Linked DNA regions of Homo sapiens. The protein of the gene in region 1 purifies or fractionates together with the protein of each later gene. This does not show direct contact. Each region holds a gene or a part of one and is shown in the gene's direction. Other genes may lie near its edges.

The links.
Region 2: the proteins of IMPACT (region 1) and CRHBP purify together in Homo sapiens (affinity purification with mass spectrometry; 2 studies listed by BioGRID and IntAct, with this or other methods). This does not show direct contact.

Annotation. Positions count from the first base shown.
Region 1 is NC_000018.10:24,435,579-24,444,293, forward strand, and holds part of IMPACT (protein IMPACT), read left to right. Parts: intron 1-2,376; coding exon 2,377-2,462; intron 2,463-4,917; coding exon 4,918-5,040; intron 5,041-7,470; coding exon 7,471-7,574; intron 7,575-8,715. UniProt on the Homo sapiens protein: Translational regulator that ensures constant high levels of translation upon a variety of stress conditions, such as amino acid starvation, UV-C irradiation, proteasome inhibitor treatment and glucose deprivation.
Region 2 is NC_000005.10:76,955,558-76,964,272, forward strand, and holds part of CRHBP (corticotropin-releasing factor-binding protein), read left to right. Parts: intron 1-95; coding exon 96-306; intron 307-3,183; coding exon 3,184-3,332; intron 3,333-7,785; coding exon 7,786-7,903; intron 7,904-8,715. UniProt on the Homo sapiens protein: Binds CRF and inactivates it. May prevent inappropriate pituitary-adrenal stimulation in pregnancy.

The DNA of each region.
Region 1 (8,715 bases):
TCAAACAGACAAGGAAGACTGTATTCAAGGCCGCTGCAATAGGGGAAGGAGGCCAGAACTAAGTGTGAACTCAACTCCTCTGAAACAAAAGGCAGAAGGGTTTTTAAGGGCCAGGATGAGCTAGTGGAAAAATACTGAAAGATATTATGTGGGGCAGTTAATCGGGTGTGTTGGGCATATTGAGTTATTGTTGAGTTTGCAAATATTTCTCTTTGTGAGTAGGCCATCTGTGTTTACTAATAGGTACCCGTTGAAGTTAGCCTCCTATTCTCCCACAGAGACTGGAAGATAAGGGCAGTGTCTTCTTTGATGCTGTGTTTCAAAGGGATGGTTTCCAGGTCCTTGAGAAAGACATTTCCTGGGTTGTAAAACCAATTAAAGTTTTCTGTAAAAAGATTTACATATATCTCAAAGAGATGGAGAAGGAATTTACAATGACAAGTTTTCTGAAGAAAATGCTCTAAGAAAAGGGAGGTAAGGGCCTAGAGTCAGGAATGGGCCCATATAAAGTTTAGTCGAGCTGAGGTTAAGGCTGTTTCAGTCAGGCTTTTGGAGTCAGTTTTTTAAATAGTGTCATCTCTTTGTGTCTGTTTTCTCATCTGTAAAAAGGGGATAATATTGTAAGCATTAAACTAGCAGCTATCATTTTTTTGTTCTTTAAAAATTTTATTTTTTTATTTTTTTGAGATGAAGTCTTGCTGTGTCGCCCAGGCTGGAGTGCAGTGGTGCAATCATAGCTCACTTCAGCCTCCAAACTTCCAGGTTCAAGTGATCCTCCCACCTCAGCCTCCTAAGTAGCTGAGATTACAGGCACACACCACTGTGCCTGGCTAAGTTTTTTAATTTCTTACAGAAACGGAGTCTCGCTTTGTTGCTCAGGCTGGTCTCAAACTCTTGGTTTTAAGCTATCCTCCTACGGTGCTGAGATTACAGGTGTGAGCTGCCACATCTGGCCTGTTTTTTTTTGTTTTGTTTTTGTTTTTGTTTTGAGAAGGGGTCTTTTTCTGTTGCCCAGGCTGGAGTGCAGTGGCACGATCTCCACTCACTGCAACCTCCACCTCCCAGGTTCAAGCAATCCTCCCACCTCAGCTTCCTGAGTAGCTGGTATTACAGGCACGCACCACCACATCTGGCTAATTTTTGTATTTTTTTTGTAGAGATGGGGTTTTGCCAAGTTGCCCAGGCTGGTCTCGAACTCTTGAGCTCAAGTGATCTGCCCACCCCGGCCCACCAAAGTGTTTTGATTACACCACGCCCGGCTCTGGGATGTTCTTATTTCAAAAATCTTCTCATCCAGCTTATAATATTGAAAATTAGGTGACAGAAACTCAGATCAAGTGATTAGTTTAACTTCACACAGCTTAGTGCATTTTAGTGAATAGCTTTACTGTTATATCAACCAATACAAGTATTTAGTTTTAGTACTAGGAATTGTGGGTGTGATGGGGAGGATTTGAGGGTATAGAATTATTTAAAAACAATGTTGTTTTCTTCTGTCTCTTGTTTCGAAAGTTTTGGTGGGTGCTGATGAGTAGTGATAAAGAGAGATAATGGTTTCAAGGGAAACTTTTAGAGGAAGGAGGTGAGGTGTTGCTATATAGTAGTGTGGTGATATCTTTAAACACATACCATACTTACTACAATTAGTGTCTTTTTCTAAAGAGCAGACACTTGGGCCTTTATTTTATTGCTGCTACCATCATTTAACATAACTATGGACATGACTTTAAAACCTGTGACACATTCTTTTTCTCAGTGATCCTTTGAGATGGATTTAGTTACCTGAGGCAACCAAACATCATTTGGAACCAAAATGAATCAATTTAGGCAATAGAATGTTTTGTCAGAAACAAGATATGAATATAAAATTGTTGAATTGTCTTTTAGGTCTTGTAAATTGACTCCCTGAAGGAGTTTCCCATATGCTTTACATTCTTTCTTGTTGAGATAAGTATACTAAATGATAAGTGTACCAAATAAGGGGTTTGAAATTCTTAAAAAACTTTAAAAAAGCAAGCAGTGATCAGACATCGATACTGAAAGATTGTATCCACTTACAGAAACTAAGTCACATTTATATTTCTTTAATCCATCTAGTTTGGAAATGTTTATTCCCCTCTTTGGTTACAGCTCTTCTGCTTATTTTAAAGTAAGCCATGTTAATTTTGGAGTCAACTGGAATTTTTAACGTTGCTATAACCTGTATTAACTACTCAGACACAAATGTTGATAAACCCCAGGTTTTTATAAATTATTTTAAAAAAGAAATGGTTAGATTGTTTATAATGTCTTGGATTGCAAATGTCTGTATCTTCTTGAATTTGAGAAGATGATTTTTGAAATAACAATTTTTTTTTTCCCCTGAATTTTGTTTAGTCAGAATATCGGTGAAAGTATTCTTTACCTGTGGGTGGAGAAAATAAGAGATGTTCTTATACAAAAATCTCAGATGACAGAACCAGGTAGGATTGAAAAATACTATCAATACTCTTTTAACTTATAATAACTACATTTTTATGTAGATACTCTAGTTGAAATTTAATGTGAAAATCTGTATTCTGGTTTATGGTTTGTATATTATAAAATACAAGTTTCTCTGAAAAGTTTAATTGCTCATGTAATTATAGTTATTTATTTCTATAAGGTTTAGCCTCTTTGATTTTGTATTACAGTATTCCTCCTCATCTGAGATTTGGCTTTCCATGGTTTCAGTTACCTGTGGTCACCTGTTGTCTGAAAATATTAAATGGAAATTTCCAGAAATAATTCATAAGTTTTAAATTGTGTGCCATTCTGAAAATGTTATGAAACCTTGGGCTGTCCCATTCTGTCTAGGGTCTTGTCTAGGATTCTACATTGCTTTCCATTGTTGTTTCTCTTTACTCTCCTTTAGTCTGTAAACAGTTGTTCAGTGTTTCCTTGACTTATAACCTTGACACTTATGAAGACTACTGATAGTTATTTTGTAGAATGCCCCTCAATTTGGGTTTGTCCATTGTTTTCTCATGATTGGAGTGAGATTAGTAGCTGGGAGTGGTGGTGTACTCCCAGCTACTTTTAAAATTTTTTCTACAGACGAGGTCTCCCTATGTTGCCCAGGCTGATCTCAAACTCCTAAGCTCAAGTGATCCTCCTGCCTTGATCTCCCAAAGTGCTTGGATTACAGGTGTGAGTCACTGTGCCTATTGTATCATATGCCTTATTATTGGTGATATTTACCTTGATGTCTCGGTTACGGTGGTGTTCGCCAAATGTCTCCACTGTAAATGCTGTAGTCAGGGTTCTCCAGAGAAACAGAACCAATTGAATATATGTGTGTATATACATGTGTGTATGTACCCACACACAAAGAGAGAGAAATATATTTTAAGAAATTGGCTTATACAGTTGTGGAAGGTGGCAAGTCCAAAATTTGCAGGATAGGCTGGCAGGCTGGGGACCCAGGGAAGAATGAATGTTGCGGTTTGAAAACAAAGATGGTCTGCTGGAAAAATGTCCTCTTCTGGGGAGGTCAGTCTTTTAATGTTAAGGCCATCAGCTGATTGGATGAGGCCCATATGGAAGACAGTCTGCTTTACTCAAATTCAACTGACTTAATTGTTAATCTCATCCAAAAAATACCTTCAGAGAAAAATCTAAAATAGTGTTTAACCAAATATATGGGTATTGAGGCTGGGCACAGTGGCTTGCACCTATAATCCCAGCACTTTGGGAGGCCGAGGTGGGTGGATCACCTAAGGTCAGGAGTTCAGGACCAGCCTGGCCAACATGGTGAAACCCCGTCTCTACTAAAAATACAAGAATTACCCAGCACGTTGGGAGGCCGAGGCGGGCGGATCACGAGGTCAGGAGATCGAAACCATTCTGGCTAACACGATGAAACCCCGTCTGTACTAAAAATACAAAAAATTAGCCGGGCGCGGTGGCGGGTGCCTGTAGTCCCAGCTACTCGGGAGGCTGAGGCAGGAGAATGGCGTGAACCCGGGAGGCGGAGCCTGCAGTGAGCCGAGATCGCGCCACTGCACTCCAGCCTGGGCGACAGAGCGAGACTCCGGCTCAAAAAAAAAAAAAAAAAAAAAAAGAATTAGCCAGGCGTGGTGGTACGCACCTGTAATTGCAGCTACTTGGGAGGCTGAGGCAGGAGAATCACTTGAACCTGGGAGGCGGAGGTTGCAGCGAGCTGAGATGGTGCCACTGCACTCCAGCTTGGGTGACGGAATGAGACTCTGTGTCAAACAAAAGTAAACAAATATATGGGTACTGTGGCCTAGACAAGTTGACATGTAAGATTAACCATTGCAGTCACTGTCTTTCTCTTTGTAGCTTGAGGGAGATACTTTGAAGCTATGCTAATATCCTGTTTCTCCTTAAACTTTCTGCCACTAATTTTAGTATCTATCCATGGAACTTGTCAACAATATTTATTACTGTGGTGTTTGCCTGATGATGATTTTCTATTTTCTTCATTCCTTCCTCATTTAGTAATTGGAATTCTATTATGAGGAAGGGATGTCTCTTCCCATTTATGTATTTATTTATCTGTTTATTATTTATATCAGTATGGACTCATGTATATTATTTCAGTCCATGGGTTAAAATGCCATCCTATCATATTTTTTTGTTGCTCAAATTGTTCTAGCTTTGACCTTTAAGAGCCCCTTCAGGTTAACTCCTGTGTTCTTTTTATAAGCCCCATCTCTTTTTGAGCATTTCCCAGTTTGTGGATCCACATGAGGTTCCAGGTTCATCTTGTAGTTTCCTTGCTCCAACTCAGGAATCAACCAGTTCTCCTACGGGCTGAGTGCTGGTTCCTTTCGTTGAAGAGTGGTATTTAGAACCCAAGACCCAGTGATTTTTTTTTAAAAAGCATCGTTTCTTACCTGCGTCATAAAGTAATTGTGTCTCATATTCACATAGGCCCAGATGTAAAGAAGAAAACTGAAGAGGAAGATGTTGAATGTGAAGATGATCTCATTTTAGCATGTCAGCCGGAAAGTTCGCTTAAAGCATTGGATTTTGATATCAGTGAAACTCGGACAGGTATAATGTTACTAACTAATTTCTTTTGAGGAGAGTGGGTTGGTAGTATTATGTATTGTTCTTTGAGATGATAGAGAAATTTACTAATTTTCTCCAGTTTTAGGAAGGAGTTATTAATTTGCAGATAAGATTAATTTTTTCCTGCCTGTTGGCAATTTTGGTGTTTGCCAAGTCTTATCAGAATGGCAAGGAAAAAATGGAAATTTACTCTTTTCCCCCTACTTTCTAGAGTTTTGATTTAGTGATGGAAGAAATTGAAACTAAGAAAGGCTATTAACGTTTTTAGTTAACATCATGTTTTTATATTTCTGTATTGAAATCCTTAGCTGTTTCCTGATGTTTCAGGATTAAATTTTAGTCTGTGCTCACAAATACAAATATATTAACTGAAAGTGCAGCCCTGGAAATTAAAGCTAGTAAAATGCCTTTAAGAGGTTTTTTTTGAGAGACAAGGTCTCGCTGTGTTGCCCAAGTTGACCTTGAACTCCTGGGCTCAAGTGATCCTTCTACCTCAGCCTCCGAGTAGCTGGGACTACAAGCATGCACCATTGTGCCCAGCTTGAGTTCAGTTTTTGTTTGTTTGTTTGTTTTTTTGAGATAGAGTCTTGCTCTGTTGCCCGGGCTGGAGTGCAGTGGCACGATCTCAGTTCAATGCAACCTTGCCTCCCAAGTTCAGTGATTCTCCTGCCTCAGCCTCCTACGTATCTGGGATTACTGGCACATGCCACCATGCCTGTCTAATTTTTGTATTTTTAGTAGAGATTGGGTTTCGCCATGTTGGCCAGGCTGACCTCAAATGACCTACCCACCTCATCCTCCCAGAGTGCTGGGATTATTATAGGCGTGAGCCACCACGCCCGGCCTAGTTTTCGTTTAAACAAATTTGTTTCGTAATCGAGTAGTATTCAACATAAAAATAGGTTGCTGTGATATTATGTTTCATTTTAATATTTTAAAATTTTGAATGTTATTGTTAGTTTCCCTAAGCCTCTTAGGAAAACATGGTAGACCAGGGGGAATATTCATTCTGTTTGAAGGTGAGGGGTTTCCTGTGTCATTACACAGTAGCTTTTAAAAGGTGCTCTGAGTTTTAAGGCTTTTGAATGGTGTCCAGGACTAGTAGAAGGGAACAAAGAGGAAATGAAAGAGTGGGGAGCATCCAGGGCTCTCATTTATGCTCTAGCCTAAGTAGCTCCCATTTTAATCATTTATTTGTGTGTGGATTTGACATATGATATCTTTTGAAAACAGGATCTACCATGAAAAGAAAAAGGATAAAAATCATACTCATAAATAAATACTATCAATTGGTCAGTAGTTCATATTGACCCTAATACTGTATTTGACTTATTACTATGTTAGTACAGCAGTCAAAATCAATTCAGGAAAAGAACAGTATCAGAGGGAAGGTGTAAAACATCTTACATAAACCTACTTTCTTGTCTTGAATAACTTTTCATCCTAAGTGAGGCAGGTAGTAGTAGCCAGGACGATTAAGTCTCTCAACAGAATTGAGGGTTAATTAGTGATTCTTTTTTTTTTTTTTTTTTTTGGAGATGGAGTCTTGCTCTGTTGCCCAGGCTGGAGTTCAATGGCACAAACTCGGCTCACTGCAACCTCCGCCTCCCAGGTTCAAGCAATTTTCCTGCCTCAGCCTCCCGAGTAGCTGGAATTACAGGCACACGCCACCATGCCCAGCTAATTTTTGTATTTTAGTAGAGACGGGGGTTTCACCATGTTGGCCAGGCTGGTCTCAAACTCCTGAACTCAGGTGATCCACTCCCTCGGCCTCCCAAAGGGTTGGGATTGCAGGCGTGAGCCACCACGCCCAGCCATGATCCTTAAACTTGTTTTAAGAGGTATAATAACTGGAAATCATGATGCTCTTTAAGGAATACCAATTGGATGTATTATTGATGTATTTAATTCCATCATATGAAGTAGAAACAGTTTCATTAGCAGAAGGCATTATATTATAGCTACACAATATAAAGAATATAAATTCATAGTTTTCCCAACTCAGAGGTCTAACAACAGTGAAACTGATAAATAAATTTTATATTAGCAGCTATAAATCTTTGGTTTCAGGACTCCTTTACACTCTTAAAAATTATATATTAGATATTGTACCAACTTACACTACTGACTGCAGCAGTTCAAGATTAGTCCCAACCCACTGCTTCCCCTGGGTAACCTTGGCAGGTGGAAATCATTTATAAATCAAGTATTTTAATCTTATGTACAATATAGTTAGAAACTTTTTACTTAAAATTATAATTTAAATTTAATTTTGGTAGATAGCGATTAATGGTTATTTTAGTTGATTTGCCATGTAATTTACATTTCTTTCCCAGCTGCCCCCCCATTTCATTTTTTTCAGTATTTGAATGTAAGGCTTTTTAAAAAATAAAGTTTCTTTTACATTTCTAGAAGTAGAAGTAGAAGAATTACCTCCGATTGATCATGGCATTCCTATTACAGACCGAAGAAGTACTTTTCAGGCACACTTGGCTCCAGTGGTTTGTCCCAAACAGGTAAAGTTCCTTTGTCTAGCTCACTTTGATGATTACTAAAATAATTCAGGTAAATGATTTTGCAATAATCCCCTTGTTTTTACTTTTATGTTTTATTTTCATATAAGATAAAAATTATTTGTTCATTTTTCTACTCCCAAATTACTGTGAATCACGGAAGATTTGTTTTGTTTCTGTTTGTCTCTGCTTTCTTTCTTTTTTTTTGTGATGGTGTCTCACCATGTTGCCCAGGCTGGTCTCAATCTGGACTCAATCAGCCCTCCTGCCTCCAGCCCTCCCAATCCAAGGTATTGGGATTACAGGCATAAGCCACCTAGCCAGGCCTGTCACTGCTTTCAAAATTGTATCTAAACTCTGATTAGGGGTTAACCCTCTAATGAATCTTTAAATAAGAAATACCCATTGTGTTATTAGAGAAAATTATGATGCTTAATACCTTGTCAAAAAGAATTATTTGTCCTGTCGAATGGGAGTTCTGTGAAACTAAGTCCATTCCTCTGTTATTATTCAACAAAGGGGACAGTGGACAGACTGGCTAAACCAAGTCCTCCCTACCTGACTTACTTTCCTTTGTGCTTCTTGATCTTAGGTGACCATATTTCCACCCAGGGATATAAATGGGAGAGGTTTCAGCCATAAACTATTCCTAGGTCTTTGCCTTTCTCATTCTCCTTTCAGCAGAATCCTTTTCTTCTTCCTTGCTTCTATAATGTAGCTCAGCTTACATTATTGATGTACGAGGCAATTTCAATACTACCTGTAAAGTTACATTTTTAAAAATGTCTCATTTACTGCAGGTTTTAGGCATGAGTCTCTTCCTTTGGTCTTTGCAGCTACCCTACTCTTGAAGCTCTTTAAAGCCCTGGGCTTCAGGGATACAGCTCTTTGTACCAGGCTGTTTCACTCTCTGAAAGAGGAAGTTCTTTTCTGCGTTGACTTGTGGTCAAGATCATAACTTTTGGTGCAGACTTCTGGTCTTTTCTCTCAGGAATCCTATTTTGTCCCTGGCCCTTAGTCACATCTTCTTCCCAGGGTCCTCCTGAGACATTCTAATTCTGAATCTGTTTATTCTGGATCCTCTTTCTGTTTCTGATCACAGTCACTTAGATTTATAGCATTATAATTTGTGAGAGCTGAAACA
Region 2 (8,715 bases), on another chromosome or scaffold:
CCCATTGCTGGATGACTTTCCCCCCCTTTTCAACTCATTTCAGACTTCAGGAGTTGATGGAAATGATAGCATCTATGTCTGTATTTTTTTCAAAGGTATTTGATGGTTGGATTCTCAAGGGGGAGAAGTTCCCCAGTTCCCAGGATCATCCTCTCCCCTCAGCTGAGCGGTACATAGATTTCTGTGAGAGTGGTCTTAGCAGGAGGAGCATCAGATCTTCCCAGAATGTGGCCATGATCTTCTTCCGAGTCCATGAACCAGGAAATGGATTCACATTAACCATAAAGACAGACCCCAACCTCTTTCGTAAGTGTTCTCAGTCAAAAGGCAGAACTTCGGATATAGACCCGCTTTTTGAAAGTAGTATCATTGCACAGACTTAAAGAAATTTGAACTGAGGAATGATTTGAATGGAAATTTTTTTGTAATTAGAAATGACCTAAAGGATAGTTTCTATTCTTTATTATGAAAATCAAATCACAGTTTTTAATTTATTTCCCAGGTTAGGTAGTATACTAATTTATGAAGAGTACAATTCTATCTTTTCTCCAAAGTCTTGCTCTGAGCTTCTCAGGTTCTACAATGCATTTAGTGATAAGCTTTAATCTTCCAAGTCATTTCACTAATCCAGGATAAGCTTGAGTGATCAGATATAAAGTTGCAGTCTTAGAGATATTCAGGCACAGGCTTGAAAGTCTCCATGTCTTTCAGCCTGTGCCTGAATGTGGTAGACCGATGTCATGCCCTGACCAGAGGGTTGGATTATAGCACCTCAATGTTACCTTCTGATTCTGAGCCCACCACTCTAATTCAATTCATTTATGATGGACACACACGTAGCTTATGCTACACAACTGAACAGCCCAGGTCTAAAGCATATTATCTTACTAAAAATATTTACTCCGCGGTGGCTCACGCCTGTAATCCCAGCACTTTGGGAGGCCAAGGCAGGCGGATCACGAGGTCAGGAGATCCAGACCGTCCTGGCTAACACAGTGAAACCCCATCTCTACTAAAAATGCAAAAAATTAGCTGGGCGTGGTGGTGGGCGCCTGTAGTCCCAGCTACTTGGGAGAGAATGGCGTGAACCTGGGAGGTGGAGCTTGCAGTGAGCTGAGATCGCGCCACTGCGCTCCAGCCGGGGTGACAAAGGGAGACTCTTGTCTCAAAAAAAAAAAAAAATGAATTTACTCATCTGCTAATTGTTTTTTCCCCATTAAGAGAAAAATCTGTTTAAAAAATTAGAAAAGGAACACATATCACTCATTTTTGCATACAGTAGAATTAATGGTAACACTTCATGCGGCTGAAAGATGGGGCCTTTATCTGCCAAAGAATAATGCACTACTGATCTTTTGATTTCTAGTTCTGAAAAAACAAAAGAATTTTTGAAAAAGCCCCCCAAAAAGGCTGTTCCTGAGGACTGCAACAGAAGAATTCTAGAAGACAAAATAAAGAGTTTCCCCTATATTTTGTTTAGTTAGAAATCAGAAACCTCCTGGGCCAGGCGTGGTGGCTCATGCCTGTAATCCTAGCACTTTGGGAGGCCGAGGAGGAGGATCACTTGAGCCCAGGAGTTTAAGATCAGGCTGGCCCACAAAGTGAGACCCTGTCTGTATTAAAACTTTTAAAAAAGTTTATTAAAAAAAGAAACTTCCTAGAACCATCAAGGAATTTCAGTCCTTTTTGAAAGTAAGTATAATTAAAAATATGAAAAGGAGGCAAGAGGTGTTTCTGATCTGTTCTGATCAATGTTGATTCATCCAGTAATCAGAAAAAAAAGTACAAATTCTGATGCTTCTAGTTTCATATCTAGACTAATTAATGTATTGTAAATTTATTTATTTGAGACGGAGTGTTGCTCTGTCACCCATGCTGGAGTGCAGTGGCACGATCTTGGCTCACTGCAACCTCTGCCTCTCGGGTTCAAGCAATTCTCTGCCTCAGCCTCCCGAGTAGCTGGGATTACAGGCGCCCGTCACCATGCCTGGCTAATTTTTGTGTTTTTAGTAGAGACAGAGTTTCACCATCTTGGCCAGGTTGGTCATGAACTCCTGACCTCGTGATCCACCCGCCTCGGCCTCCCAAAGTGCTGGGATTACAGGCGTGAGCCACCACTCCCGGCCAATGTATTGTAAATTTAGATTTGAGATATAAAACAAAAAATTGTAGAAGTTCTTGGGAGTAAATTAAACATTAAAAATGCACCTTTTAGTTAACTTATCACTTAACATGCAGCAAATATTTATCAGACTTAATACTGCTGTCTTTCATTTTTTTCTCAGCCTATTTTCTCACTATTAGAAAAATACTTAAAATAGGCCTGGCATGGGGGCTCACTCCTGTAATCCTACACTTTGGGAGGCTGAGGCAGGTGAATCCCTTGAGGTCAGGAGGTCGAGACCAGCCTGGCCAACGTGGTGAAACCCTGTCTCTACTAAAAATACAAAAATTAGCCAGATGTTGTGGCACATGTCTGTAGTCCCAGCTACTCAGGAGGCTGAGGCAGGAGAATCACTTGAACCCGGGAGGCAGAGGTTGCAGTGAGCTGAGATGGTGCCACTGCATTCTAGCCAGGGTGACAGAGCAAGATTCCATCTCAGAAAAAAAAAAAGAAAAGAAAAATACTTAAAATAAGCCTGGGGCCATGGTGAAGCTGCCGAGCTGCATCCTAGGCCCCCAGTTTTAAAATAAAAATTAAGTTTTTTTAAAAAAGAAAATAAGTAAGAATGAAAAAGAAAATACTTAAAATTATTTACTTTATTATTTAAAAATAGACAGAGTTTGAGTTTTGGACTCACCATTAAGCCTCGATTTTTCCAGATTCCTAGCTTTAAGCTGGACTCTAGTTAACTCAAGTGTTCCTAGAACTACTACCAGCTAGTATTTGTTTGGGTGCTGTGTTATGTCTTGTGATTGTTATAAACAAGGTAACCCCCTAAGATTAACATTAGAAGCCCCCTCACAGCCCAGGGCCTCCTGACAATATCCACGTGTCACTGATGGTTTTTGTTCCCCAAATCCTTCCTGTCTCCAAATTGCTTTTGTGGTATATATGCTCTCTTCCTGGGCAGAAGGCCCTAGATCATGAACAGGAGCCCTAGAATAAGATACAATAAATGTCTATAAAAACCTAGCAAACCAAGTAAAGGAAACGTGAATTTCTTTTTCTTTTCTACAAAGCTTGCAATGTCATTTCTCAGACTCCAAATGGAAAGTTTACCCTGGTAGTTCCACACCAGCATCGAAACTGCAGCTTCTCCATAATTTATCCTGTGGTGATCAAAATATCTGATCTTACCCTGGGACACGTAAATGGTCTTCAGTTAAAGGTGAGTTGCTTACTTGTTTCCTAACCGTTTGATAAGGCCACAACTTTATCAGAGCAGAAGCAATCATATAGGGAAAACCTGGACACTAGCAAATTGGCGTAGTACGTTGCTCTGATGAACTCTTAAATCTCAAATGTGTTTGCCCTAGCTGCTTTGACTAACCCCCTCTTCTATTTCAGTTATGCGGCAAGTTGCATACTCAGGTGCCCCTTCTGACTACTTGAATACTTTCCCTGTGATGTAAGAAGTGTTTTCAATTGGTAAAGTTGTGGTATATAATTACAATTGAACTCTCTTGTACTTGCCTCTTTTACAAAAATTCTCTCCTAGCAGAACGTAGTGTGAGTCATCTACACAGCTGTTTTTCTGATTATTGGAATTTTCTTTTGACATGAAGGAAGTATCTCATTGACAGAACTGCGTTGTGAAGGAGTGCTAACTGTAGCATAAAATACAAAATTGGATTTTTAGATTGCAAAATACAGTAAAGCTTTGAAAAGTATTTGGCATGACATTTAACTCAATACATTTTGCCTAAAAAATATTAGCCAAGAACCCCTATCAACTTGTTTTTGAATAAACTTCTGTATGGACCTTAAAATTCATGCTGAGTTTGACCGCATTTTCTTGCACTGGTAGCATTTTCCCTCTGAGTCATCCTCATTTCCTTCTACTTTCTCACATGACTAGGTTAAGATAACTCATGTATTTGCTGCTATCAAAGGCAGTCATAATTCCTAATCAGACAGATTTTAGTGAAAACCAAATAAATAGAACTAGGACTGAGAAAAGGAGTATATCCAATTTCCTTTAAGCCCTAAATTCATGGACTAGTGCCTGCTTTTTTTAAGTTGGAACTTAGTGGAAGAATAGTCCTTTGATAAGGACATTTTTGGGTATCTTTGGTACAGTTTTACTGGCTTGATATTATTTGTATGTCATTTTTGATGTAAAATATAGAAGATGAAAGGTGTGAGCACAGACTGGGAGATCTGCACTTTAGTTATTGGGGCTATGGGGGTAATCTTGGTGTTTCCTCCCGAACAATTTAGAGCCTACAGTGTTCTAGGCATCTGTTCCTTCACAAAATATTTTTTGAATGCTTACCATGTGCAAGGCACTATTGTAGATGCTGGAAATTAGCAATAAACAAGACAGGTCCTGCTCACAGGGACCCTGCATTCAAGTGGGATGAGACAGGCAAAATTGCCATGTATTTCAGTTGGTGATAAGTGCTATACAGAAAATGCAGCAGAGTAGTGTGGTAGACAGTGACTGGGAGCATGGGGGTGGATGGAGAGGCGCGGGGCTACTTGTGATAAAGTGGTCAGGAAAGAAACCTTTTGAGAAGTGAGACCTGGGTGATAGATCAGAAGGAACCAGCAGCTGTGAGAACAGGGAGCAGAGGGAACAGTGCAGGGGCTCAGAGGCAGGAATGGGCTTGCTGGATTCCAGACATGGAAAGAAGAGGAGGATTGGCATAAAACAGCTTCAGGGAGATGGGCAGGGCCAGAGTGTGGTGAGCCCTGCAGGCCACATTAGGGAGTTTAAGTGCAGTGGTAAACCACTGAAAGAGTTCAGGGAGGAAAGCAACATGATCTGATGTATGCTGTCTAAAACGTCACTGTGGCTTCCATGCAATGAATGGGCTGTAGGGCCATGCCACCCTTTTTATGGCTCTGGTGAGATGTTTCTTTAGTTATTATTAACATATCTATCAAGATTATTTTCTTAAACCTCCCAGATTTCTATGTATTGGAAGATGAGTTCCACCAAAATAAAACCAAAACCAAAAAACCTTCAATTTTGCACATTGAGTTGGTGTGAGGATCTTACATTTGGTACAAGGAATGTAAGTACTTTTTATTGTTTTTTGTTTTTTGTTTTTTTTTTGAGATGGAGTCTCGCTCTGTCGCCCAGGCTGGAGTGCAGACATGCAGTCTCGGCTCACTGCAACCTCTGCCTCCGAGGTTCAAGCAATTCTCCTGCCTCAGTCTCCTGAGTAGCTGGGATTACAAGCATGAGCCACCACACCTGGCTAATTTTTTTTTGTATTTTTAGTAGAGACAGGGTTTCACCATATTGGCCAGGCTGGTCTCAAACTCCTGACCTTGTGATCTGCCCGCCTCGGCCTCCCAAAGTGCTGGGATTACAAACATGAGCCACTGCTCCTGGCCAAGTACTTTTTTGGTACATTATTGTGGGCTAGGCAAAAGATAGTAGTGGCTTAGAACCTGAACAAAGAAATTTAGGGAATCCCTGTTGAGAAACTGAACTTGAGAGGTCCCTGCATAACTCAGTTTCTGCCATTGTAAGAAAAGCTGAGAGGTTTGCAAAGAAGGGAGAAAAATCATTGAACAGCAAGGAATAAGTGCACTTAACTTTCTTGTTTCTTTGTTTTGTTCCCCTCACTTTAGTTTCTATTTCTTCCTAGCTTCTTTATTTCCTACTTCTCTCTCCTGAGTCTGCCTTTTTGCCTGCAACAGCACCTGCTGAATTTTGGAACCTATAAAACTAAGTGGAAAATTTAGTTGTAAGAGATGTTCCTCCTGGACATCCTCTACTCAAGGGAAAGGCAATTAAAGTTTTTTTCCTTTACTGCTAAATTGCTTATTCCACTCTCAATACAAGAACATGAAGCCCTGTATACAGTGGGGCTAATTAAACCTCTTTCATCATTTGATGCAATTATGTATAAAGCCTCTAAGCATCAAACCCAGTACATAGTAGGTAGGCCCTTTAAAAATATGTATCCCCACCTGCCCCTGCTCATTAGTGAAGCAGTTGCCATTATGTTATTTTCCAATTTGCTGTTTAGTTCCAGTTGTATTCCAATGCTCTTCTGTGTTTTTTTGTTTGTTTTGTTTTGTTTTGTTTTTTCGGAGACAGAGTCTCACTCTGTCGCCCAGGCTGGAGTGCAGTGACGTGATCTTGGCTCACTGCAACCTCTGCCTCCCAGGTTCAAGTGATTCTCCCACCTCAGCTTCCCGAGTAGCTGGGACTACAGGTGTGTGCCACCGCGCTTGGCTAATTTTTGTATTTTTAGTGGAGACGGGGTTTCACCGTGTTGGCCAGGCTGGTCTCGAACTCCTGACCTCAAATGATCCACCTGCCTTGGCCTCCCAAAGTGCTGGAATTACAGGCGTGAGCCACCATGCTGGTCAGTGCCCTTCTAAATGCCTGAATGTGTGTGCTTATGTGTGTGTGTGGGTGTGTGTGTGTATTAAGTTCTCTATTTTAGATTTTGGTTCCTATGTGTTAAGGTCTATCTAGTGAAGTACTGAGCACCTTGTCACATTCTACTAGATCTCTTAATGAGCACACTTCAATGAAAAAGAGGATCACAGGCAAAATTGTGGGGACCAGTACAAATGAAAATGTGGGAGCCCTTATTACAATTTTATGAAAATGCAGCAGAACATTAAACCAAGCATAGAGCCCTTCTAGGCACTGGCTTTTTGTGGCTGCACAGGTGGCATACTTGTGAGACTGCCCTGGGGAGATGGGGGCTCAGAGTACTTTTGGGACTAAGAGTGGTTGCTTTGTTTGTGTTGGAAAGTGAGGCACGGGGATTGCTATGGACAAGACAGTGTGGAAAAAATGAAAAGGCTGGGTGAGGTGGCTCACACCTGTAATCCCAGCATTTTGGGAGTCCGAGGCAGGAGGATCCCTTGAGGTTAGGAGTTCAAGACCGGCCTGGGCAACATATCAAGGACCCATCTCTACAAAATTGAAAAAAAAAAAAAAGGGGGAAGCAGGAAAAGGTGATCATGGTGGACCACACAAAGCTTTAGAATGAATTCTTTTGAGTAGCTTGAAATAAATTTGTTTTAGTTGAAAGGAGAAAGATCATGGTAACTGTAGCTAACTTGGGCCCCAAATCAGGGTTTTATTATTTCTTTAACATACTCATAATTAATCAAAATTCTTATTGTTAGAAATGAGGTGTTCCAATAGCACACAAATTTCCTTTACAAAGAAGAAGAAAAGAGATGAGGTGAAGGAAAAACGGATGTGAAAGCCCTATTTATAAAATGTAGGTATTTGACTTCGCTTAGCTGTGACTGCATGCATTAAGAAATTGGAGTGATTCAGTATGTATGTCCAAATGATTTGAAAAGTAAAGCATTTTTTGGTTGAATTTCCACACATCTTATATGGAGTTTACAGATTTCCATTTTATCATTCCAGTCCTTGAGCTTAAAAAAAATGAAAAAAACATGTACACACATTTCTAAAAAAAATGATTACTCAACTGATTTAGAAAAGCAATTTTTATGATTTTTTCTCTTTTAAATGTCTTTTAATTTCCAGAGTCCCAGATGTTAAATTAAATGGTATTGCCAGGATGTTGAGGGCTGATTGAGTGAATTCATGGACCCGCTGTTGGTCAAATGGTTTGACTTCTGTAATTGGTTTAAATGTGTCTTTCTCTGCTGCTTTATTCCCTTAGAAATCCTCAGCAGGTTGCGAGGGAATAGGAGACTTTGTGGAGCTGCTGGGAGGAACTGGATTGGACCCTTCCAAGATGACGCCTTTAGCTGATCTCTGCTACCCCTTTCATGGCCCGGGTGAGGTATTTCTTTGATTGTTATGTATGTGCCTATCAAGATTAAAAAAAAATAAGCACTCCCCTAATATTTTCTACATTGGAAGGTGAGTTTCGCCAAAAAAGCCTTCAATTTTTCACACTGAGCCAGTATGAGGATTTGAGGCTATATATAACATCAGTATCTTTACCAAAATATCCGACACTGGGAGAGAAACCTTTGAAGCAATAAAGGTTGGCCTTAAGTAAAACTATGAAAAAGACAAAGCTTTTAAAATCTGCATTCTTTCCATTTTCTTGGGGGTCTCTGCTTTCATTTTCTAGAGACTAAAGAGTTTACTAACTGAAACACTTATGGTTCAAATAGTAGATGTATCATCAATTAGTAATAGGATAATAATGAAATAACTGTTTTTTATGTATGTGTATGTATGTGTGTGTGTTACTCATAGTAAATAAACAACAAAGTGATAAGCTTTATTAGAAATTCTTAGAACTGCTAAGTCTATAACTTCTTATGGCTAAACTAGCCTCTCAAAGGCCAGTGTAACACAGAGGTAAATTCTGAAATCTAAAAGCGGTCACCAGTAATAGAAGACTGGTTTATTTGGCACAGCATATGCCAAATAGAACCAGATCTATGTCAGAGACAAGTGAGTATTTTCACTTTTTTATGCTCATGTCAGGTGAGGATGGATGGGACTTCATGACCTCATGACCAGATAACTCAATGAAGTCTCGGGGAGGTGGGGGAGAGGAGTCATAAAACATTCCTGTAAAGGTCACTCCCATAGCTTTACTTCAGACACAGGAGTCCTAGATTAACATTAACGA